Regions from separate parts of the Homo sapiens genome. Here region 1 is linked to region 2. Evidence: fine-mapped expression QTL. A gene starts in region 2. The other region holds a variant in brackets. All regions are shown on one strand. Distances are between the middles of the regions.

The links.
Region 1: its variant is fine-mapped to the expression of ATF7IP in whole blood (TOPMed, PIP above 0.99).

Annotation. Positions count from the first base shown.
Region 1 is chr12:14,254,877-14,267,715 of GRCh38, reverse strand. It overlaps the pseudogene GNAI2P1. Among named protein-coding and RNA genes, the nearest start is that of ATF7IP, 100 kb to the left of the region's middle. RefSeq lists a cis regulatory region at 9,317-10,246. The variant C/G (reference allele first, on the strand shown) is at 6,719.
Region 2 is chr12:14,359,074-14,371,401 of GRCh38, reverse strand. It overlaps ATF7IP (activating transcription factor 7 interacting protein), which reads right to left and starts at 5,720. Exons shown (of 15, transcript NM_018179.5): 1 at 5,575-5,720. LOC124902884 (a long non-coding RNA gene) reads left to right here and starts at 4,212. Exons shown (of 2, transcript XR_007063220.1): 1 at 4,212-6,053. RefSeq lists enhancers at 4,005-4,144, 5,501-5,560, 6,031-6,090, 5,322-6,139.

The DNA.
Region 1 (12,839 bases), 100 kb after region 2:
ATGACTAGAGTGGGGTTTTTTTCCTCCTTAATTTGCATAATGAATGATAGGCTCCTCTCTTGGTGAAATCCAGTTAAAATTCCACCATAGTAGAATCTCAGGGCATCTTTCTTTGTTTTGTTTTATTTGAAATATAAAGGAACAAGTTTCCCTCTTATTTCTTTGGGAAGATATCTGCCTTAGAGAAATAAAGCCACTGGCAGTGGATTTGCATAGATTATTCCTTCTCCCTGAGCACAGATATGTAAATATATTCCAAGAAGGGGCTTGGTGACTTTGATCTACTCTATTTAAGATTAATAGCAGCCGGGGCACGGTGACTCACGCCTGTAATCCCAGCACTTTGGGAGGCCGAGGCGGGCGGATCACGAGGTCAGGAGATTGAGACCATCCTTCCTAACACGGTGAAACACCGTCTCTACTAAAAATACAAAAATTTAACCAGGCATGGTGGCATGCGCCTGAAGTCGCAGCTATTCAGGAGCCTGAGACAGGACAATCCCTTGAACCAGGGAGGCGGAGGTTGCAGTGAGCCAAGATCCTGTCATGCCACTGCACTCCAGCCTGGGTGACAGAGTGAGATTCTGTCTCAAAAAAAAAAAAAAAAAAAAAAAGCCCTGGCCGGGCGCATGGCTCACGCCTGTAATCCCAGCACTTTGGGAGGCCGAGGCAGGCGGATCACAAGCTCAGGAGTTCGAGACCAGCCTGGCCATTTGGTGAAACCCTGTCTCTATTAAAAATACAAAAAAATTAGCCAGGCGTGGTGGCGGGCACCTGTAGTGCCAGCTACTTGAGAGGTGGAGGTTGCAGTAAGCTGAGATCGCACCACTGCACTCCAGCCTGGACAACAGAGCTAGACCCGTCTCAAAAAAAAAAAAAAAAAAAGAATAATAGTCCTTTGTGTAGGCAATAGTCCCAGCTACTCTGAAGTCTAAGATGAGAGTATCCCTGGAGCCCAGGTGTTGGAGGCTACAGGGAGCTATGATCACACCGCTGTATTTTAGCCTAGATGACAGAGCAAATAACAGTCCTGATATTTTAGTACTCTTTTTTTGTAAATTTAAAAGAAAAAAATAAATAACAGAATAAGAAATTAGAAAATAATAATTACATGACCAGGACCAAACTTCACATGGAGACTTTCCAAAGTATCTCACAAAATATACGTTTTTCCCAATGAGCAATCTGAGATATGGTGAAGGGTTTGTGAAGGTAAATGAATACCTATCATCCTCAAACACAAGGCTCCTTCTGTGTCTAGGTGTGTTTTGCATTGGTGTGGAAGCACTGTATTTTTGTTTGTTTGTTTGTTTGTTTTTGAGACAGAGTTTTGCTCTTGTCGCCCAGGCTGGAGTTCAGTGGCACGATCTCACTCATTGCAACCTCCGCCTCCTGGGTTCAAGCGATTCTCTTGCCTCAGCCTCCCGAGTAGCTGGGATTACAGGCGTGTACCACCAGACCCAGCTAATTTTTGTATTATGAGTAGAGACGGGGTTTCTCAGTGTTGGTCAGGCTGGTCTCGAATTCCCGACCTCAGGTGATCCACCTGCCTTGGCCTCTCAAAGTGTTGGGATTACAGGCGTGAGTCACCATGCCCGGCCTTCACTGAATGACTATTGATTGAAGACATTAACATTGATTTTATTAATAAAAATAAAAATTAACACCTCCATAGTACTTTCTCTATATGGTTCTATTCTAAAAGGATATTAGCCAGGTGTGGAGGCTCATACCTGTAATCCCAGAGCTTTGGGAGGCCTGAGCTCAAGAGTTCAAGACCAGCCTGGACAACACAGTGAGACCCTGTCCCTATAATTTTTTTTTTTTTAATTTGCCAGGCATGGTGTTGTGTGCCTGCAGTCCCAGTTACTTGAGAGCCTTAGGTGGGAGGATCCCTTAAACCAGGAGTTTGAGGCTGCTGTAAAGTATGATCACACCACTACACTCCAGCCTGGGTGACAGACTCTGTCTCAAAAATAAATAAATAAATATATCAATAAATAAAAGCATTATTAACTCATTTGTGAATTGAAATTATCATCACCAACCGTACCCTATTTTACAGATGAGAAAACTAAGGCACAAAAAAATTATTTAAAACGTATCTGGTGGCTGGGCACAGTGGCTCACGCCTATAATCTCAGCACTTTGGGAGGGTGGCTAATTTTGTATTTTTGGTAGAGACGGGGTTTCTCCATGTTGGTCAGGCTGGTCTTGAACTTCCGACCTCAGATGATCCGCCAGCCTCGGCCCCACAAAGTGCTGGGATTACAGGCATGAGCCACCACGCCCGGCCACACCAAAGGTTTTTTAAAATCAACAAATTATTTGGAAATTATTTGAATAATTTTTTAAAAATTGCACAAAACTTATATGGTAAGCAGTTTTATACATACACATACATATATAACTGTATATGTAATTGAATAAGCAGTTTTATACATATATAATTTAAATAATTTAGAAATGGAGATTATATTTTTCAAATGTTTACATTTATATATTGATATCTAGGTTAATTTACAATATGTATTGTGGGTTAGATACGTTGATTTCATTCCCTACAGGAAATATCAGCAAACCTCATTCAAACAGACTGAAATGGTAAGGGAAGAAATTTACTTTTTTTCACATAACTAAGTAGTCCAGCGTAGGTTCCAGGCATGGTAAGATCAGTGGCTCAGTGATGTCATCAAAATTCTTTCCATGTCTGTTCTGCTTTCCTCTCTGTTAGGGTTTACCCTTAGGCTAGATCCTCCTGTTACTCAATATGGCAACAGCACTTCCTGCTGTTACATCTGTGGTGGTTTACAATATGTCCACAAATTCCTTAATATTCCTCCTTCCCTGCAAAAGTGCAGCCTAATTCCCCTCCTCCTAAATGTGGGCTAGACTTAATGACTTCCTTTAATGAATAAAATGAAGTCGAAATGATGGTGTGTTGTTCCTAAAATTAGGACATAAAATATAATGGTTTCCTCCTGTTCTTTTTGTTGGGATCACTCTGGGGAAAGCCAGCTACTACGACAGGAGGACATTCAAGTAACCCCATGGAGTGGATCACAGGGTAAGTAACTGTGGTCTTCTACTAAGAGCCAGCAATGAACTGAGAACTTATGCCAACAGCCATATAAGCCATCTTGGAAGTATATTCCCTAACCCCAGTCAAGCCTTCAGATGAATGCAGCCCTGGCAAATGTCTGGAATGGAACCTCATGTGAGAATCTGAGCCAGAACTGTCCAGCTCAGCTGCTCCTGAATTCCTGACTCACAGAACCGTGAGATAATAAAATAATTGTCATAAAAACATCCAGAGGGAGAAAGGCACATCCTTTCTCTCTCTCTCTGAGAAACTGCTGAGACTTCCTGGCAAACTTACTAAACCAGTTAGTGATTAGGAACTAATATTACCATGATTCTTATACTGAACCACCCTGTGGAGCTGGAGCTGGAGTCAGTGTCTTCTGAAGCCTAGGACTGTGTAGAAGACACAGCTTCTGATGGGAAGAAATGAGGGTACAGAAACAGATATCGACAGGTGACTAATCAAGCTAATTTAGGTTGTACTGTATAACAAATATCCACCAATTCTCTCAATGGCTTAACACACCAAAAGTTTGTTTCTTCCTCATACTACATGTCTAATGTGCCTTGGCAAGGAGATCTTGGCTCAAAGAGGTTTCAACTCAACACTTGCTTCCTTGATCTCTCAAACAGTGACAAATTGTTTATTAGATCTGAAAGCTTTTTCCTGGAAGTTACACATATCATATTACCTCCTCTTTTACCTTATTGACAGAAGGTCTAATTTCAAAGAGGTCAGGTCATACAATATTACATTGTGACCAGAAACTGAAATTTTTTTTTTTTTTTTGAGACAAGAGTCTCCGTCTGTCGCTCAGGCTGGAGTGTAGTGGCACGATCTCAGCTCACTACAACCTCTGCCTCCAGGGTTCAAGTGACTCCTGCCTCAGCCTCCTGAGTAGCTGGGACTACAGGCGTGCGCCACCACACCCGACTGATTTTTGTAGTTTTTAGTAGAGATGGGGTTTCACCATATTGGCCAGGCTGGTCTCAAACTCCTGACCTCATGATCCCCCCGCCTCAGCCACCCAAAGTGCTGAGATTACAAGCGTGAGCCACTGTGCCCGGTCCGAAAACTGAAATATTTTAACATCACTGATGAGTACCAGCAAGGGAAAATCAGGGTCTGGATCTGGGTGTGGTGGCTCACGCCTGTCATCCCAGCACATTGAGAGGCTGAAGCAGGTGGATAGCTTGAGCCAGGGCAACATGGCGAGACCCTGTCTCTACCCAAAAAATAGAAAAATTACCCAGGCATGGTGGCACATACCTGTAGTCCCAGCTACTGTGGAGGCTGAGGTGGGAAGATTACTTAAGCCTGAGAGGCAACGGCAGTGAGTTGTGATTACACCACTGCACTCCAGCCTGGGCAACAGAGCCAGATCCTGTCTCAAAAAAAAAGAAAAAAAGAAAAGAAAATCAGGGTCTGGAAAACGTGCTTACTAAGGGACTCGAAATTGGGATGTTACAACAGCAACAAACTTTCTCTACTTCAGCCCCTACAAGTCCCCGTATCTTTTAAGGAATCTCTCTTTCTTCTTTGCCCTTTAAGAGTCAAAGTGGTTAAATAGATTGGATGTTAGGGTATGTGGCACAGGGATAAATCCTAACTTAATTGCTGCTAGATCTTAGCCTAGCATGTGTGAACAGGTCTTAGCAGACTACTTGAAAACTTTAGTGAAAACATTAGTACTGACTCATGATCATGTATCTAATAATTACTCTTCTAATATTAGGTCCAGTAATGTGTAGTTTTGCTAAGAAATCTAAAGTTATAAATAACATGTTGAAATTTTAAAGTGCTTTGGATGTTGAAATCTGCATGTCAATAGCTCACCTTTTCTCAGGGTTTTCGTGCTAGTAGCTTAGTTATTATCCTGATAGGATGTTTGGAAGTTTCTGGGTAAGGAAACAGATCTGTTCTTCTGCTGGGCTAGTCCACCTGTTTCAGGTCCTGAAAAGCTACTGACCTAGTGGACTTCAGACTCCTTGCTTTGTCTTAGCGTTTGAGTTCTTTTAATTCTGGCTGGTAGCTGACCTGTTTGTTAATACATCTGGAATGAAAAGTCTGTTTTTCTAGCCAGGCGCGGTGGCTCACGCCTGTAATCCCAGCGCTTTGGGAGGCCGAGGTGGGCGAATCATGAGGTCAGGAGTTTAAGACCAGCCTGGCCAACATGGTGAAACCCCGTCTCTACTAAAAATACAAAAAATTAGCTGGGCATAGTGGTGAGTGCCTGTAATCCCAGCTACTCGGGAGGCTGAGCAGGAGAATCTCTTAAACCTGGGAGACAGAGGTTGCAGTAAGCCGAGATTGGCGCCACTGCACTCCAGCCTGGTGACAGAGTGAGACTCTGTCTAAAAAAAAAGAAAGAAAATTCTGTTTTTCTGACTGCTAGCTCTGGTTTTATTCTAGCTAACTCCATCTCATTTCTCAGCTCTTTCTGAGAAACTCACTGGCTATATCTCACTCCACTCAACCTTACTGTTTTTCATGTCCCTCCTCTTTTCTCCCATATCACATCCTCTTTTTCCTATCCTTATAAAGGATATGCCATGTCACTCTGGAATAGCTGACTTCCTGTGTATCTTCCCAGCCTGTAAGCTCTTTGAAAGTACATTCCACGCTTTATGTGATTTTTAAAACTCACAAGCCCAGCGTAGCCAATAGTACCATATTGCCTGGTTGTTAGGAAGTTTTCAATGAATGTTGAATTAATGTTGAATACAAGAATCAAACTTTGGGGAGGAAGATTATAACAATGTAAGAGTCTTTAGAAATTCACTACAAAGATCCATTAATTTGACTTCCTAAAGCGGGGTAAATTAACTTTATCTACTGAAATGTAAGTGTCTTTCCAGGCAAGGTGGCTCACGCTTGTAATCCCACCACTTTGGGAAACCAAGGCGGGTGGATCGTGAGTTCAGGAGTTCAAGACCAGCCTGACCAATATGGTGAAATCCCATCTCTACTAAGAATACAAAAAAAATTAGCCAGGCGTGGTGGCACATGCCTGTAGTCCCGGCTACTCGGGAGGCTGAGGCAGGAGAATCACTTGAACCCAGGAGGCAGAGGTTGCAGTGAGCCGAGATCATACCACTGCACTCCAGCCTGGTGACAGAGTGAAACTCTGTCAAAAAAAAAAAAAAAGTTTCTGTGGAATGGACAACATATTTGGGCCTTAATTTAATATCCATAGTTCATCCAATTAACTCCTTCCAAGGGTTCTCTGGCAGTGGTTCTTAACTTAGTCCCTGGGGGTGGGGGATGGGCAGGGACTGCATTTCCTGTCACCAAGTGACCTTAGGGCAACAAAATCTCTAGCGTAGACTGGAAAGTGTGCGACCCATGACTTCTCCAGTAATGAGGGACCCTCTCTCCTCCATCACTGCACAAAGGGACTGCTGCAGAGGTGTAGGTCTAGTTCTGGCTTTTCCGATTTTGTCATGGATTGGGCTCCTCGGGGACACCCAGACACAGAGAGCAGGACTTTTATTGCCACGAGGTAGCCGAACTCTTAACCTTTCTGGTTTATATAACTATTAAAAAATGACATTATTTGTAAGTGTGGACACTGATGGAAAATCGTCGGTTATTAGGCATACAGTAACTGCTGTTGTTCCTGGTCTTGCAGGC[C/G]TGGACTGACTACCGCGATGTTACCCTCATCTTTAAGGGCTGTCACACCCTAGCTCAGAGAGAGCAAGGGACAACCTTCAATGCGCTGGGTGTAGTCAGGCTGTAGATCATGTGAAAGCCTGGAGGAGTACAGTCACCAGCTGGTTCACTGTCTTCCTTGCAGCCCACTTAGCAGTAGTTTCGGAACTCGCTGGAGGAGGCTTGCGGGGGTGGGGCTGGAATGCCTCCTGCATTCCTCCTCGCCTCTTCCTCCTGGCTGCATTTGCGGGTGCGGGGGAGGGGCGAGCGCAGGGAGCAGAGCGCAGCGGCTGAGTCCAGCCAGCGCTGGTGGCTCCCAAGGCCCCGAGCACGTGGACACCAACCCTCCTCACATTATCTGGTAGGTTTATCACAAAGTCGGCAAAGGCAGGGCCTCCTTCACAAAGCCTTCTAAAAGACGCCCTGGTTCTCAAATTACAGTTTTGCAGAGGTCAAGTTCATTCATGCTTACTAATCTCTCATCTATAAAATGGGGATAAAAGAAAAATTACAGCAAATATTATTCACAAAAAGGAACCTTGCCTAACAATGCAGCGTTCATTTCCTGTGAAGAGTGGAGAGGAACTAAGTAATTGCACTTTGTTGATTTTATTTCAGCCAGATAACAAAGAAAGATCCTATACAACAAATGTTTCCCCTTTGTTCCCCGCCTTGTAAAGAGTCATTTCTCTATGGAGAAAGACTCCCCTTTGTGCATTCCCTAACCCGACAGGCCACGGGGATTATGAAGAGCGAGCTCTCTGGAGCTGTTTTCCTGGTTAGAGACATTGTTCTGGAAAGCAGACTGGGTTGCCATGGTGACGGCTCCCGGGGCCTCGCCCTGCCCCTCTCCACCCCGCCTGCTTGTGCTGCCTCCTGGTACCCCGCCAGGCCCGATTTCAAGTGTTCCTCCCCGCACAGCACGGAAATGGCAGGGAAATTCTAAACTCTTTTTCCCAGAGTGCCTCTGGGGGCGAAAGGCAGAAAAAAAAAAATCCCTTGTCAGACCGTTCTGAATTGTCCTTGAAAAAAACAGGCATTAGATTGAAAGCTTGTTGAAGGCAGGAACCAACCATGTTCTCATCACTGAACCAATTCTTCCCCTCTCGCTATGACCATCTTCCCCCAGCCGGAAGTAGGCTGACACGTAGTAGGATCTGAAAAAGGGTTTATAATCCGTTGCCAGTGAGGTGGCGGGTATAGTATCAGCTTAAATGTATGGATTTTGGAGCCAGAATCTTTACCTGCCACATTATAGATGTGTAACGTTGGTAAAGTACCGAATCATTCCAAACTTCATTTTCCTCATCTCTAAAATGGGGACAATAATTCCTAACTTGGAAATGTACGGTGTGTATGTTATAATTTAAGATAGGAAACACTTGGTACTGCCTGGTTTATAGTGAGTTCTCAGTATTATGGTTATTACTGTTTTTTAAAATTTATTTATTTATTTATTTTTTGAGACAGAGTTTCACTCTGTCGCCCAGGATGGAGTGCAGTGGTGGCATCTCGGCTCACTGCAACCTCTGCCTCCCTGGTTCAAGCAATTCCCCTGCCTCAGCCTCCCGAGTAGCTGCGATTACAGGCGCACACCACGACGCCCAGCTAGTTTTTGTGTGTTTTTTTTTAGTAGAGACGGGGTTTCACCATTTTGGCCAGACTGGTCTCAAACTCCTGACCTCAGGCAGTCTGCCCCCCTCGGCCTCCCAAAGTGCTGGGATTACAGGCGTGAGCCACCACACCCAGCGGTTATTACTGTTATCCTCTCCAGCCTACTGCATCTTCATGTGGGGCAATTCATTGTTCCCTACCAAAAAAGAAACAAATCCTAAAGAAAGAAAAGACCTATCAGAATCCCCAGCAGTCCAGATCTAATAGTTAATGAAATGGACGTAGAAGAGCTTCATGAGTTACTTATTTGTGTAATAAACATTAAATAGAAAATGTCAGCAACATGTTTCGTGTGTTTGATTTTCGCACATTAATAATGTAGAGTGGATTGTGTTCCAATTTTCCATCTATGTATCCATGGTAAAAGGAATAAAATAGCATTTTCACATCTTTCAGCTGATCTTCTTCCTTTTCCCTTCCCCAGTCTCTTAGGAATATTTCTGAAACCTACAGCCCTGCTTATAATTGAGCCTGTGCATGGGAGAGTCGTAAGCTCCATGCCCTGCCCCCCAGCTCGCACCAGGGCTGACTTCAGTCAGAGAAGCCCTGGGTCTGGAGGCATTTAGTGCCTCTGGAAGATTCTAAACATCTTTGGACACTTAGGGGAGAGGGAATTTACACACACACACAGTGTCCCACCAGGCCGACCTGGACTTTGTGTACAACTCCTAGGAATTTTTGGTGGGGAAGGGCTGTACTGGTTCGGGAAGGTTCTGAGCCAAACTTGGCCACAGGCAGTGCACAGCCTCCACAGCTGCAGACCACAGTTCAGTCTACTAGACAGTGTTAGAGGAGCCATTTCAGGGTGGGACTGATCAGATCTTAGGAGGTTCTGGCACTTGGGGGAGGGGAGCGGAGGACAGGATTATCATTCCATTGTTACCTAATACTGCTGTGTCTCTTAGTTGAGAAAGGCATGTACGGCTTGTATGTATTTCTGGACGCAGATGAAAAGAGAATGTTGACAGTATTGGGTATGGGTACTGCCATTTCATGCATAGGGCTGAAGGAGGTCCGATAATGACTTGTACAAGTGCCACTTGTATGTGGGGCGCTCCCACAACGCCTATGTTCAGTGTATTTTGAGGTTGTGCAATACAGCAAAGCTGTTGGAAAGGTGGTGTGAACTGCAGGGTGTGAAGTGCTGTTCCCTCTCCTTCAGACCCTCTCGCACATTCCCCCCCCCACCACCAGGCACACACATGAAACTACAGGAGACACATAATCCTCCCCTCCCCCAACATTGCAGACAGCTTTCTCTGAAAACTGATACCCTGAGGCCCTTTTTCCCTTACCAGCCACAATTAGGAGCAGCAAGACAGAAAATGCGGACTGGATTATGGCACAGAGACAGTGCTGTGTGATTTCTCTTTCTGGAAGAGGCCACTGTCCACGCTCCAGGCCTTATATTTCATCTGACTTTGCCACTACTGGCAGCAGCTTTAGGCTCCAGCGAGTCCAGGCCAAATCCAGTTCTTTCTGCGAAGTCCATGCTGGATTTTCTCTTTCACCCTAGTGAAGTCTCTGCCGAGGCTGTTGTTCTCAATCCAGCTCAGAAACTGGCTCAAACCGCCCTGAACTGGATTTGGTGGCTGTTGAGACACAGTTTCTGCCTCTTTGTTAGGGCGGATCCGGCCTCATTCGCGCTTCAGTTTCCCTCCCTCCTGTTTTCCCAGAGTCATCTACAGCCATTCCCCTCCCCCGGCCTCTCCAGTTTGGCATTTTTTTTTTACCCTTCCCTGGGCCAAGACCCCATAAAGCAGATTAAATTCTTTAATAAAAAAGTGGATTTAGATTGTAAACCTTCTGCTTTTATTACATTAAGTTCTGCTTTCCTCAAAGTTGTTATCTAACCAGTTGACATGGTGCCCTTAAAATCTTGGCTCGCATCCTAACCTAGAAATAACTTTAATTTTCACTCTGGATGGGAATAACTTTAAATTTCCCATCAAAGACTGAAGGGCTTTGGTGCAGTACATTGTTCATTTCCGTTTTGTAACCATATTTAAATTAAAACAATTTATTCATTTCTTTGCTGATAAATGACATAGTATGTGTAGAATTTTTAAAACAGTCACCTATACTGGCTTGTCTATTGCAACTGTGCAATTCCTAGAGGAAGAACTAAAGAACTGGGATGTTTTTGGTTTTCGAACCTGTAATTGTAACCCTGAATCCGATTCTATGAATTGTACAGTGACGAAGGCTGTTGGGGGAACACGTGGGGACCATTCCTGACAGAATACCGGTGGACACAAAACTGGGAATGTGACGAAATAAGGAGGATAGGACACGCCTGGGTTTTTGCAAGTTCCCTTTATAGAAAATTTAAACATTTCTTATGTTTTGGAACTAGATAGAGGTGACGGTTCCATAACACTGTGAATGAGGTAGATGCCACTTAATTGCACACTTTAGAAGGGCTAGTTTTATGTTATGTGGATTTTGCTTCAATAAAAAAGGGGCTTTGTTTTAAGAATTTCTCATTTTCTTTTTGTGTTTTTTGAAAATTCAGAGAAGAGACAGATAATAACCCTAATCTGGGTGTGGCTTCGTTGCGTGCTTCACGACTCTCTGGTCTCCCTCTGCTGGCCAAACTGCGCAACATGTCACCATGTCCCAAGGCCTCTTGAGAATGTCTCAATTTTATGTCGAAGCACAAATGCAAGGCTACGTTACTAAGAATCACTCTCCAAACCTGGTTTCATGTGCATTTTACGTGTGCAATATACTGAAAGAAGAATCAGATGTTTTGTTTCTATGATGTTACATAGGATTAATTATATATTAACGATTTAAAATTTGCCCCTAAGTCTCAAAACAGAGACAAAACCGTTGTCATTTCCCCTGGGCTTAAAACCAGAGTGAAATTGCTCATTTAAGTGTTTAGTTTCAGTAGAGCATAAAGCCCTGGAAAAAAAACAATTACAACAGTAGATATGGAAAAGCTATTTTTGTACACAGGAGGGGAGGGGTTGGCTTTGTCTAGTGAGTCAGTACGCTCAGAAGGATGTGGGTGCCGGTTTGGGCTAAGATAATCTTCAAAATGTATGTTAAAAGGACGTGAATTCATCAGTTGAATTTGTTTTTGTGAGATTTAAGAGTCATCAGTTATTGTGGGAAGGCACACAGTATATGCTACACGGGATTTTCCAAAATGTTCAGTATCAAAGGGGATTCAAGAAGGGTAGAGGTCAAGCCATCCAAACTGGCCCTCTGATTCTTAGAGATGCTTTTATTTTAGGATCTTTGCATTTTTCACTCCACCTTGAAATCTCCACCCTCCCCCCCCACCCCTTATTCCTCTCTCCTTTCACTGTCCTCTGAGTTCCTCCTACCCTCTGGTCAAGCTTTGCCTTCCTCAGAGGCCTTCCTGAATGCTTGGTCCAAAGTAAATTCCTTATACCTTCTTATCATCTTACATGGCAACCTCTTTTTTTCTGTTGTAGCACCACTGTAACTTACAATTATATATATTTGTTTTCTTGTACATTGGCTCTCCCCCTTCACCCGCAACTAGCTTTCTAAGTACCCTTGGGCCGTGTCTGTCTGATCAAAACTGTATAACAAGCATAGGACCTGGCAAAATGTTAGCAAGGAGCAAATATTTGTTGAACAGATTAATTAAATTCAAATATTATTTCTCTGGTCCCAGTCCACTACTTTCTGGCTTCTTCTTTTATACCAGTTAGTTCTTTTACGATTCAGTCTGTTTTCTTACTCTTGTGAACTTTCAGGAACAACTGATTTATTTCAGGGTTCCTCTTTACATAATGAGAGCTACTGAGTAGAATAGAATCTTCACAGCTTCTGGGGGGTACCAGAAAGATGCCCAGAAAGGGGGTACCATGGCCATTACTGGCACCTCAGACAAGGGCAGGCTTCAAACAGGGAGGCCTGTGGCAACCCCTCCCCTATGTCTGAAGCTGAGGGGATGGGGGAGCTAAGAACAAAGGAAAGAAGAGAAAAGTGTCCAGGGAACAGGTGGGGACCATGGTCTTCTTGCCCCATCTTCCTCAGGGGTTGGGGGGTACAGAGTTGGTGGTGGCCCATCCTGCTAGGTCCCACTGCCCCTCAGAAGAGGCCCCAGTCCTTCAGGTTGTTCTTGATGATGACGTCGGTGATGGCATCAAACACGAACTACGTTCTTGGTATCGGTGGCGCATGTGAAGTGTGTGTAGATCTCCTTGGTGTCTTTGTGCTTATTCAGGTCCTCAGACTTACTCTGGTTGTAGCTGGCTGCCTCATCATACTTGTTGGACCCTGTGTACTCAGGGAAGCAGATGGTCAGGGGCTGTGTGTGATCTTCTCCTCCAACAGCTCCTTCTTGTTGAGGAAGTAGATGATGGACGTGTTTGTGAACCACTTGTTGCAGATGCTGTCAAACAGCTTTTATCCCCTAAGAAAAGACACACTAGTCTTATAATTC
Region 2 (12,328 bases):
GACCCAAAGGCAGGGATTTTTCATTAAAAAAGATAAACTGCTTAAGAAAGGCCAATAATATCTTAATATTTTATATCCATTTTCTAGATTTATTTTCATAAAGCCAATAATATTTTATCATTTGAGTTCTATATTTCCGTGATTTCTTCTTTTCATTCCTCCACTAATTTACAAGTTTAGTTCAATAAAAATGTTATTTTGGCAATAAACTGACTCCTGAATCAATTATTTAAAAGATATAAAGTAGAATTACAGCTGAAATACATCCTTATTAATCAAGATAATCTTTTTCAATGCAATCAGCATAAAAAAGAGATTTAATGGAAAATAAATTTATTCTAATAATTAGGGAAACATCCTTATCAGAAAATATAATAATTTAATGATACCAAGGAAACTAAAATAAAAATTTTTTATCTTTATTATGAGATTAAGCCTCACCCTGGCCAGAAAAGGAGTAAGGTACCTTTTCAAATTCCTCCATCAAAAAAAAAAAAAATTGTCTGTGTTTAACAAAAAAGGATTTTGATTTCGAATATTGTACAATACTTTATTTTGCGACTTATTTTTCCCACGTCTAACTTCATACTGATACTACTTTTATGTCATCATGTCCTAAACCAGATTGAAAACAGAAATATAACCTTATATTGTCTCCTAATTCATCCCTACTAAAATTATAGCTGCACCAAGAAAACATCCTCCTGAAAAGTCACAGATACCACAAATTCTCCCAGAGTTCCTAGGAAATAGTGCTTTTTGGTAGTCTACAGGAAGTGTGTAATACCGATGAATTAAAAAAAATAGTATAAGGTTATAAATTCACCCAATGTAAATTTAATGGAATTGTAACCAAAACCATTAGCTGGCTTTTTTTTCTTAATTAACCAAATGAACCTAAAGTTGATCTGCAAAAACAGTCAAAATCAGCTATGAAAATTGTAAAATAGAATTGTGAGTGGGTATTGGATTTTATATAGGATATAGCACTACAAACACATATTTAAATTGTGTACCGTCCTACAGCAAATAAAACAATGCAATAATGCTCTAAGAATAAGGCCCAGATACAGTCATTGTCAACCTCTGTTTAAACTTTATATCATATATTCTTTTGAGAAGCTAATGAAAGCTATCACTTTTTCCCCAGAAAAATGCACATAGGAGGCCAGGCGCAGTGGCTCACACTTGTACTCCCAGCACTTTGGTAGGCCGAGGCAGACGGATCACCTGAGGTAGGAAGTTCGAGCCAGCCTGACCAATATGGAGAAACCTCGTCTCTACTAAAAATACAAAATTAGCCGGGCATAGTGGCACATTCCTGTAATCCCAGCTACTCAGGAGGCTGAGGCAGGAGAATCATTTGAACCTGGGAGGCGGAGGTTGCGGTGAGCTGAGATCGTGCCATTGCACTCCAGCCTGGGCAACAAGGGCGAAACTCCATCTCAAAAAAAAAAAAAAATGAACATATGCAGACTTACATAAAATTGTGTATATCAAGGGATCGGTGGAACCCCTAGAGGACAATGGACCCCAGGTTAAATATACCTAGTATATGAATCAGAATTGTTTGCTACCAAAGCAATAAGAAATGGATCAAGTCTATGGAAACTAGATATCTGGAAAAAAATGGAAACTAGCAACTTATCTTAACACACAATATGTCAAAACACAGATATGTCCACATAGATGTAAAAGTATTTTTTAAGTTTATTAAAACTTCCAGAAAAAGTTCTAGTAAAAAATTAACAAAACACATGAACAAGGCTGTGCACGGTGGTTCACACCTGTAATTCTAGCACTGTGGGGGCCAAGGCAGGCAGATCACCTCAGGTCAGGAGTTCAAGACGAGCCTGGCCAACACGGGGAAACCCCGTCTCTACTAAAAGCAGGGCATGGTGGTGCACGCCTGTAATCCGCTACTTGGGAGGCTCAGGTAGCAGAATCGCTGGAACCCAAGAAGAGGTTACAGTGAGCCAAAATCACACCACTGCACTCCAGCCTGTGAGACAGAGCTAGACTCCACCTCAAAAAACAATAATAATAAAATAAAATACAATATAAACATACAATTCACCTTACAACAGGTAATATTTTCTGGGCAGACAAGTGCTGTAGAAATCATAAAGGAAAAAGGAAAGGCAGTACAGGCTGGACATGGTGGCTCATGCTTGTAATCTCAGCACTTTGGGAGGCTGAAGTGGGAAACTCTCTTGACCCCTGGAGTTCAAGACCAGCCTGGGCAACATAATGAGGCTTTGTTTATTAAAAAAAAAAAAAAAAGAAAAAATTAGCGGGGTGTGATATCCTTCACCAGTAGTCTCAGTTACTCCAGTGGTGGGAGAATTGCTTGAGCCTGGGAGGTCGAGGCTGCAGTGGGCAGAGATCACTGCCACTGCACTTTAGCATGCGCAGCAGAGCAAGATCCTATCTCAAAAAAAAAAAGGGGGGCAGTACATTTTACTACATAAAAATGCAAAACTTCTTAACATATACAATCATAAACCACTTAAAAGGTAATTTTAAAATTACTGTGACAAATATTAAAAGCTAAGGACCCCAAAGCCGTAAGTAGCTGTTACCAACAAATAAGAAAAACAGTAACACTCATCATAGAAAAATACACAAAAAGTCAAACAGCTAATTCACAGAAAATGAAAAAAATGCATATATAAAACAATAACAAATTCAACTTCACTAGTTATCAAAAAAAGTTAATGAGCTACTATTTTTCACCCATCTAATTGATGGTGGTATTGAATATGATAAAAAATGCTTTTCAAAAAAAAGTTTTTATCAATTTTGCAAATTACTTTAAAAGTCCTTTGAAAGTAATTTCAAAGAAATATTCTGAGGTATAGTACAAGAACGTTCACTGTAGCATTATTTTTAATAGAGAAATGAGCAAAAAGCAAAACAGGAAACAAAAAATGAAAGGTTTAATAAATCACAGTAAATTCTTCTTAGAGATAACAATAATATGTAACCATTTTAAAATGTGTTTAAAAAGAACATTTGATCATGTGGGATATTATAATAAAGTATCATGCAACCATTTAAAGACATATTTTAGAAGAATAATGAAATGGGAAAATACTCATAACATTAAAAGAGTAGAAATGAAATTATGGTACCAATGAAAAACTAATTAATAAACATTTATAGATTGCTCAATCATGGAAAAGTGAAGTCACAAATCACCAATACCTTTAGAGTGGTTATTTCTAAGCATTGTTAATTAATTTTCAATATTTTCCAAATGTTCTATAATGAATAAGTTTAAAAATATTTAAATACATTTATCACATATGCAAAACCTAATTTAAAGAAAAAATAGTTCTAATTGTTTAATAACTCAAACCTGTCTTTTCTAAACTACATATAAATTTTTAAATTTACAAAACTACAAAGATTTTAAATAACTTCAGTAACTTGGTATTCATTCCTGGAGTAACCTAGTCTTAATATTTATATATGTTGGATATGTGTCAAAATTTTGTGGCATCATAACCACCAAACTAAAATTTTAAAATATACTTGTTATTGACAAAGTACTAATAAACAAATAGTTGGTGTTCAGGCAATTAATTAATCTTATTAAGTTTACATGATTATATCTGCCTTGTAAGAAACATGACAGCAAAATCGTCCCATCAATAAATATGTTCTTCATATTCAAGAGCATTTTCAAATACCTCTTACTACCTTCAATATTAACCTAAAAAGCAATCATCTGTATATTCAAATGAAAACATACGCTTATATACACCAAACTATTTCATTTTTCTGGAAATGTAAAGTGTACCATGCCCTAAGATCAAAGATCAAAGTTCTTTTGTTAACCGAAATATTTATGTGTATGTTCAACTCGAAAATGCCTGAAATAGCATGTGGTAGAAAGGGGCTGCTAGGTAACCACTCCAGAAACATAAAAGGGAGAAAATTACACAACTGCTCTCTAAATATACTTCTGTGTAGAAGACCTCAGAGATCCAAGAATTACATCAGGTCAAATATTCTCTTGAGAAAAAAAGAAGAATCTTTCCTACCTCCATTCTATCTCATATGTGACGTCATTTAAAAATCCACCAACCAAAAGTATTACTTTCAATTACATCTAGGTAATATTTACTAATGGTATTTGTTTTAGGCAATAAAAATTTCCCTAAATTAACCGAGATTATAAAGCAAGAGGCACGTCTTCATTTGACAGTAGACTGATTCAAACTTAAAGAGTTATAACCAACCAAGAAACCAGTTGTTGTATATATGAACCACAAATGAAGTCTATGGAAAACATTTGCAAGTTTCTTTGCTTAGTAAGAAAGAATTTGCACAACGGGAGAATCATATCAAATCTTATATAACTTCCCCCAATTGTGTTACATAAGATTTAACTATAGTTGACACTACCATTTTAAACTAATCAGTAGCATATTTATAATTACCTTCCCTAAAAAACTATTAATAAAACCAGGAGCACACTTACAATTAAAAAATCAAACACAACTGTATCTTACACACATGCATACAGTACAGTGTTTAAAAGAAAAAAACAGATTTTTTTTATTAATGGTCCACTTTCTTCAAAGAGGCCTCAGGGTAATGGATGTTCTTTCTAGAATTCTTCATCAGAAAAATTTACCAAATAAATGTTATAGCTTACATATCATAGCAAACAAAAATGCTAAGAAAATGAGTTGATTAATTTCAAAAGTAACAATAATCTAGCTGAAGCAGTAATGAACAAGTCACCTAAGAAACTTAAAACATGTAAAATTCAAATGCCCAGAAACATACAAACTGATTAAAATTAAAACTTTATTTACTTAGGATCAAACATTTAAAACCAAAATAATCCTCAGATTGAGATTTCATTTTCGATTATACTGTAATTTCTTCCACTATTCCCGTTCCCCCAATATTCCCAAAACTAAAATTGTTTCTGTTTTGTAAACATTCCACACATCCATAACAGAACAGGTAAAAATAGGGTTAAAAATGTATTTGCAAATATGCAGTTCAAATAAATGCACTTCCCGTGAGAACACCACTAGGTGCTGATCTTTACCACCGTAAATATAAACCTGAATCCAGTAATACTTTAAAACTGAAATTATAATCAAGAACCACAAATGAAAATCATTTTTACAGAAAATTAAGTCCACAATTTTTCAAAAAATCGAAAAAACAGAGAAGAGCTTGAGGTCGGCCCAGGAGTACAACATTAGAGTAATGTTTTTCTTGAAAATTGTGAGAATTTAAGGTTAACACAAAGAAACCCCTCAAGAACGAGGAAAATTAAATCTAGAACCCAAATGGCGTCCAACAAGAACATTAGATCTTGAAAATGAATATTGCGCTTGCGCAGCCACCGCCCCGCCAGCTGCACAACTGCAGCTAGAGCCCGACCCCGCAAGATCACGTGCTCCCATGCAGCGCCGCCCGCAGCTCCGCAACCGCGCAGGCGCAGACACAACTCCCGCAGCCGCCATAATGCGGTCTTGACTCTTCAGAAATACAATAGTAATTTAAGAAAATGTGGTTTTAACAGCCCCTGGGATTCACATATACCTTTTGGGGCGGAAGCTGAGGGAGGGGGAACCAAGTTCCTTCCTACAGAGCCGTCCCGCGCAGCCGTCCCCGACGTTGCCGCCTCAGCTTTTCGCGCGCTTCAGTCGCCGCGCCGCCGCTGCCACCGCCGCCGCCTCCGCAGATTCAAAAACAAACCCGCTTCTCCCTTGCACGCGCCGGGGCCGTTATGCAAATTAATATGGGCGGGGCTCCGGGGGGTCGTGCTATGTACCCCGCCCACTGTGCTATCAGCCAATAAGCTCAAGGACTAGCCATTCCCCATGCAAATTCTGGTTTTTTATTTGAATGAGGGACATTGGCCCCGCCTCCTGCGTGGAAAAGAGAAGGAAGCCCGAGGTGGTGGCGCTGCGTCTCTCAGTTGCAGTGTGAGGTGTGTTTTTTGAGTGGATCTTCCTCAATCAATAAGTAGCACTTTGTGAGCGCCCTCTATGAGGCTTAGAAAAGAAAGAAGGAAGGAGGTAGGTGAGAGTTTAAAGAGCAGAGGGAAAGATTTTCATAAAAGCCAGGAGTATGTTGATTTATTCATCATTTATGTTTTAAATTCACAGAATGTACTTTGAATTGTATTAATAATGAAGGAATGAAAAAAACATACTTTCTTTCAGTTGCTTGGTAACAGAGCAAGCACTTTTTATCATACTCTCTCACCAGAAGTTGTATTCATCCCATTTATTCAATTTCATGCTGGGAGTCGGCCTTTAATGAATTCCACAGGAGGTAGTGGACAAGTCACTGCCTTACTGGTTAAGAGATCTGGGTTCAAGTTCAACTACTGCAGCTTCCTTGCCGGTTCCTCGGAATAAGTGTGTTACTCAGTTTTCTCACCTGTATAATGGCAATCATGACTATAGTTGAACTAGGTTGGAAGCACTAAATGATAGAATAAATGTACATATGTTTTGGCCAGGTGCCGTGGCTCAGGCCTGTAATCCCAGCACTTTGGAAGTCTGAGGGGGGGTGGATCACCTGAGGTCAGGAGATCAAGACCAGCCTGGCCAACATAGTGAAACCCCGTCTCTACTAAAATTACAAAAATTAGCTAGGCATGGTGGTGCGTGCCTGTAATCCCAACTACTCAGGAGGCTGAGGCAGGAGAGTTGCTTGAACTGGGACCTGGGAGGCCGAGATTGCAGTGAGCGAAGATCTCACCACTGCACTCCAGCCTGGGCTACAGAGCAAGACCCCTTATCAAAAAAAAAAAAAAAAAAAAAGAATAAAAGTACATATGTTTTGCAAGGCAAGAATAGCCTGAAAATAATATTAGATGGTACCGTGTGGTTATTGTTTTTTTATGTAACTTCTCATTATATGAATGTATTGGTTCAGTATTTATTTAGCAATCACTGTGTTGTAGATCTGTTAGGTGCCTGTCCTCAAGAAATCTGTACTCTAGTGAAGAAGACAGAAAACTGAACAAGAAATTTTTGTAACTAATAAGAAATTAGAATAGGGTTGTTAATACTTATTTTTATAACTGGAACCATTCAATTTACTTAAAATATAAGGTGGCCTTTAGAAATATCACCTAGGGCCGGGTGCAGTGGCTCACGCCTGTAATCCCAGCACTTTGGGAGGCCGAGGCGGGCAGACCATGAGGTCAGGAGATCGAGACCATCCTGGGTAACATGGTGAAACCCCGCCTCTACTAAAAATACAAAAAAAAAAAAATTAGCTAGTCGTGGTGGCACGCGCCTGTAGTCCTAGCTACTCGGGAGGCTGAAGCAGGAGAATCACTTGAACCCGGGAGGCAGAGGTTGCAGTGAGCCAAGATCACGCCACTGCACTCCAGCCTGGGCAACAGAGTGAGACTCCATCTCGAAGAAAAAAAAAAGAAATATCACCTAATCCAGACCTAGAGAATTAGAAAAGCCTTCCTAGAAGAGGTCATCTCTATCATGATAAATGATTTAATTAATTTTTTGCCTAAAAGTTGGACCTCATTGGGACAGCAATGAGGAATCATTTAAAAGGTTTTAAGTCGGGATATAACACAATTAAATTTGCATTGTTTAATCGCTAAATGTTGTAACATCATTAGCACAGTCCTTAGCATATACTCAATAAATTATAGATGCTCAATTATAATTTATTTATTATAATTTTCATAGTACATCAGTGCTCAATTATAAGTAGATGCTCAGAAAATTAGAAATATTGATATTAAATGTTACACTCCATAATAATAAGAGAAATTGGATTGGAATACTAGAGCCCATTATGTTTCTCTTTTTATGTCTTCTGTAAGCATATAAAAAAGAATCATTTTTATAATAGTCTATTCTTTTTTTTTTTTTTGAGACAGAGTCTTGCTCTGTTGCCCAGGCTACAATGCAGTGGCGTGATCTCAGCTCACTGCAACCACCACATCCCGGGTTCAAGCAATTCTCCTGCCTCAGCCTCCTGAGTAGCTGAAATTACAGGCGTCCACCACCGCGCCCAGCTAATTTTTGTGTTTTTAGTAGAGACAGGATTTCACCATCTTGGCCAGGCTGGTCTCAAACTCCTGACCTCATGATCCACCCGCCTCGGCCTCCCAAAGTGCTGGGATTAAAGGCGTGAGCCACCACATCTGGCCTTCTTTCTTTTTTTTTTTTTTTTTTTAAGACAGTCTTGCCCTGTTGCCCAGGCTGGAGTGCAGTAGCACGATCTCAGCTCACTGCAACCTCTGCCTCCCAGGTTCAGCGATTTTCCTGCCTCAGCTTCCTGAGTAGCTGGGACTACAGGCACACTCTACCACGGCCGGCTAATTTTTTGTATTTTCAGTAGAGATGGGGTTTTGCTATATTGGCCAGGCTGGTCTCGAACTCCTGGCCTCAGGTAATCTGCCCACGTCAGCCTCCCAAAGTGCTGGGATTACAGGCATGAGCCACCATGCTTGGCCTATGATAGTCTATTCTTGATTATCCATGCTAATAGCAAATGGAAAAATAATTCAGCATAACCACAGATTTATCAGTTTTCTTAGATATGCTCATATTCTAGACTTGCCTCCTGAAGACTCCAACTAGACAATTTTATTGGATTCGAATCTCCTCAGATATCCTCAACCACAGTTACAGTCTCTTCAGCCATGCAAACCCGCTGGTTGACCTAATCAACTATTCATTGATTTGTTCAATGAATACAATATTTATAATGTCTCACAAACTATTCTGGGCACTGGGGATGCCCAAAGGAAATGACACTGTTTCTCATGGGGAAAGAGTTGTAAATACAGATAAACATTATGAGATCATTAATATTTTGGTGGTATGTCTTAAGCATAAAAAAATTCTAAAATGAGAGAACCTAAATCTTCCTCATACTATATGGGAAAACTTCACAGAGGAAGTGATACTTGACCTGACTTATGATGTAGAACTTTGTACCTAGGCTGTCAGACTAGGTACAAAAGAAAGTATTCAAGTTAGAAAATAACAGAAAATACAAAAACAATGAAGAATGAAAAAAGCTGAACTTAAGACTTCTAGGTAGGACCACATTTAAAATATTTATCAATCCCTATATCACTGACCAATCAGAATGGAAGCAGGCTTGAAGACTTCCCTCCCCCCACCCTATTTTGTCAGGTGTTAATTCTTTAGTTGTAGGATCTTGAAGAGGTCCAGAGGCTCTTCAGCTGGGGACTGAGCCTGACTTGGTGGTATGAAGGGTGTGGTAGGATGGGGCAGCTACTTACCAGTTAGTACAAAAGGATTTTCATATTTTATCTACCATTATGTTTTTATTGGTATATTTAGGCTAAAATGATACAGGCTAAATATAATTTTCCTAGGAAAAAGTGCTAGAGTAAAGTAGGATCATAGAACCTGTCTCACAAAAAAAGAAAAAAAAAAAAGACCTAAACTAAAATAATAAATATAAACCAATACATTTCAGTTGTAGCAACTGAACAAAGAAAACAGAACTTTTTAAAAACAGCATAGGCCGGGCGCGGTGGCTCACACCTGTAATCCCAGCACTTTGGGAGGCCGAGGTAGGTGAACCACCTGAGGTCAGGAGTTCGAGACCAGCCTGACCAACATGTTGAAACCCCATATCTACTAAAAATATAAAATTAGTCCCACGCCTGTAATCCCAGCTACTTGGGAGGTTGAGGCAGGAGATTTGCTTGAACCCAGGAGGCAGAGGTTGCAGTGAGCTGTGATCATGCCATTGCACTCCAGTCTGGGCAACAAGGGCAAAACTCCATATCAAAGAAAAAAAAAGAAAAACAGCATAAACTCCGAAAAGCCATTGAAATGGAAAACTGAAGTTTCTGAGTACAAAATAATAAAACAGGAAGCTTAATCTAGTGCTTTCAGGTTCTGAAGGCTTACTACCTGAATTGAAACCTTGGCTCTACTTCTTACTTGTTTAGTGTCCTGAAATTCTCTACGCAAATGTTTCCCAGTCTATAAAATGGGGATGATAAAAATAGCCCTCCCGAGCAAGCACAGCTCATGCCTGTAATCCCAGCACTTTGGGAGGCAGAGGCAGGTGAATCACTTGAGCCTAGAAATTCCAGACCAGCCTGGACAACATGGCAAAACCAGTCTCTACAAAAAATACAAAAATTAGGCTGGGTGCAGTGGCTCATGCCTGTGATCCCAGAACTTTGGGAGGCCAAGGTGGGCGGATCACTTGAGGTCAGGCGTTCAAGACCAGCCTGGCCAACATGGTGAAACACCGTCTCTACTAAAAATACAAAAGTTAGCCAGGTGTGGTGGTGCATGCCTGTTATCCCAGCTACTCGGGAGGCTGAGGCAGGAGAATCGCTTGAACCTAGGAGGCAGAGGTTTCAGTGAGCCAAGATGGTGCCACTGCACTCAAGTCTGAGCAACAGAGTGAGACTCGGAATCAAAAATTAATTAATTAATTAATTAATATAAAAATTAGCCCAGTGTGGTGGTGCATGCCCGTGGTCTCAGCTACTTGAGAGGCTGAGGTGGGAGGATCGCTTGAGTCTGGGACGTGGAGGTTGCAGTGAGGGGAGACTGGGCCACTGCACTCCAACCTGGGTAATGGAGTGAGATAGTCTCCAAAATAAAAATAAAAAAAATATGGCTAGGCGCAGTGGCTCACGCCTGTAATCCCAGCACTGTGGGAGGCTGAGGCCAGCAAATCATAAGGTCAGGAGTTCAAGACCAGCCTGGCCAACATGGTGAAACCCCCGTCTCTACAAAAAATACAAAAAAAATAGCTGGGCGTAGTGGCAGGCGCCTGTAATCCCAGCTACTCGGGAGGCTGAGGCAGGAGAATCACTTGAACCTGGGAGGTGGAGGTTGCAGTGAGCCGAGATCGCACCACTGCACTCCAGCCCGGGTAACAAAGTGAGAGACTTCGTCTCAAAAAAAAAAAAATTATATATATCCCTGATCTCTTAAGGTTATTATGAAGACTAAATTCTGGTAAAATACTTGGAGTAATACTGGATATATAGTGATGGCCCAATAAATATTATCTAAGAGTAGTAGTAATAGTAGTACTTGTAGGAGTAGTACTAATACATAGTTCAGCTTGAACAGTTTCTATCAGTACTCCCCACCCTCCCATTAAGAGAGAAGATGAATCAACAACAACCTGATCATTTTTATTATTGTCCTCAAACTTGCAGAGAAGTTGAATGAGGTGTTAAATAGGCAAATTTGGAAAAACTTAAGAAACAACTCTTGAGAATAGGAAAATGACCTCCATGATCCTCACCTTCTGGTGATCACAGTCTCTATAATCCTCTTCTCTTGAGCGAGGGCAGAACCTGTAACTTGCTTTTAGCCAAGAATTTTGCAGATGTAATAAAGAACCAAATAAACTGATTTGGGGTTAACCAAAAGAGATATTATCTTGGGTGGACCTGACTTAATCTGGTAAAAGCCCTTTGAAAAGAAGCTGGATCCTCCCTGAGGAGAGAACTTTTCCTTGCTTGCTTGATGAAGAAAGCAGCCATGTTGAATAAGCCTATATGGAAGGTTACCACAAGTGGCCTGTAGGTTCTTTGGGTAACCTCTAGGACCTGAGAGCAGGCTCCAGACAACCAGGAGCAAAAAAAAAAAAAAAAAAAAAAAAAAGCCCGGTCCCTCAGTCATATAGTCCTGAGGAAATAAAAGCTACCAACAAACTGAATGAATTTAGATTTTTCTCCAACCAAGCCCCCAGATGAAAATACAACCCAGGTAACACCTTGATTGCAGCCTCTGAGACCCTGAGCAGAAGATACACCTATGGCCCAAACTCCTGACCCACAAAAGCTGTGAGATTATAAATGTGTATTGTTTTGTTACTAAGTTTGTAGTAATGTATTACCCAGCAATAAAAAACTAATACAGGAAGTAATTAGAGAAGGGAAAGGGCATCATTACCATCTTCCAACATAGATAGGCTACCTAAATAGGTGAAATGGTTCTTATTAGAAGATATTGAACTAGGACTCACTGAAAAGTATAGAACTGGTATTGCAGTTTTAGCTAGGTAAGAGGGACCTCTGTCCTGGTCCCCACAAAAGATATTTTTAAATGAGCAGCTGTCTAAGATGGCCAGGGAGTGAGAAAGAAAGGAGTTTCCACAATGCAAAGCTCTTCGGGGCAGAGCCGGGATGCCAGGTGAGACTCTGGGCCTTCTTCTTTTTTTTTTTTTTTTTTTTTGAGATGGAGTCTCACTCTGTCACCCAGGTTGGAGTGCAGTGACGCCATCTCGGCTCACTGCAAGCTCCACCTCCTGGGTTCACACCATTCTCCTGCCTCAGCCTCCTGGGTAG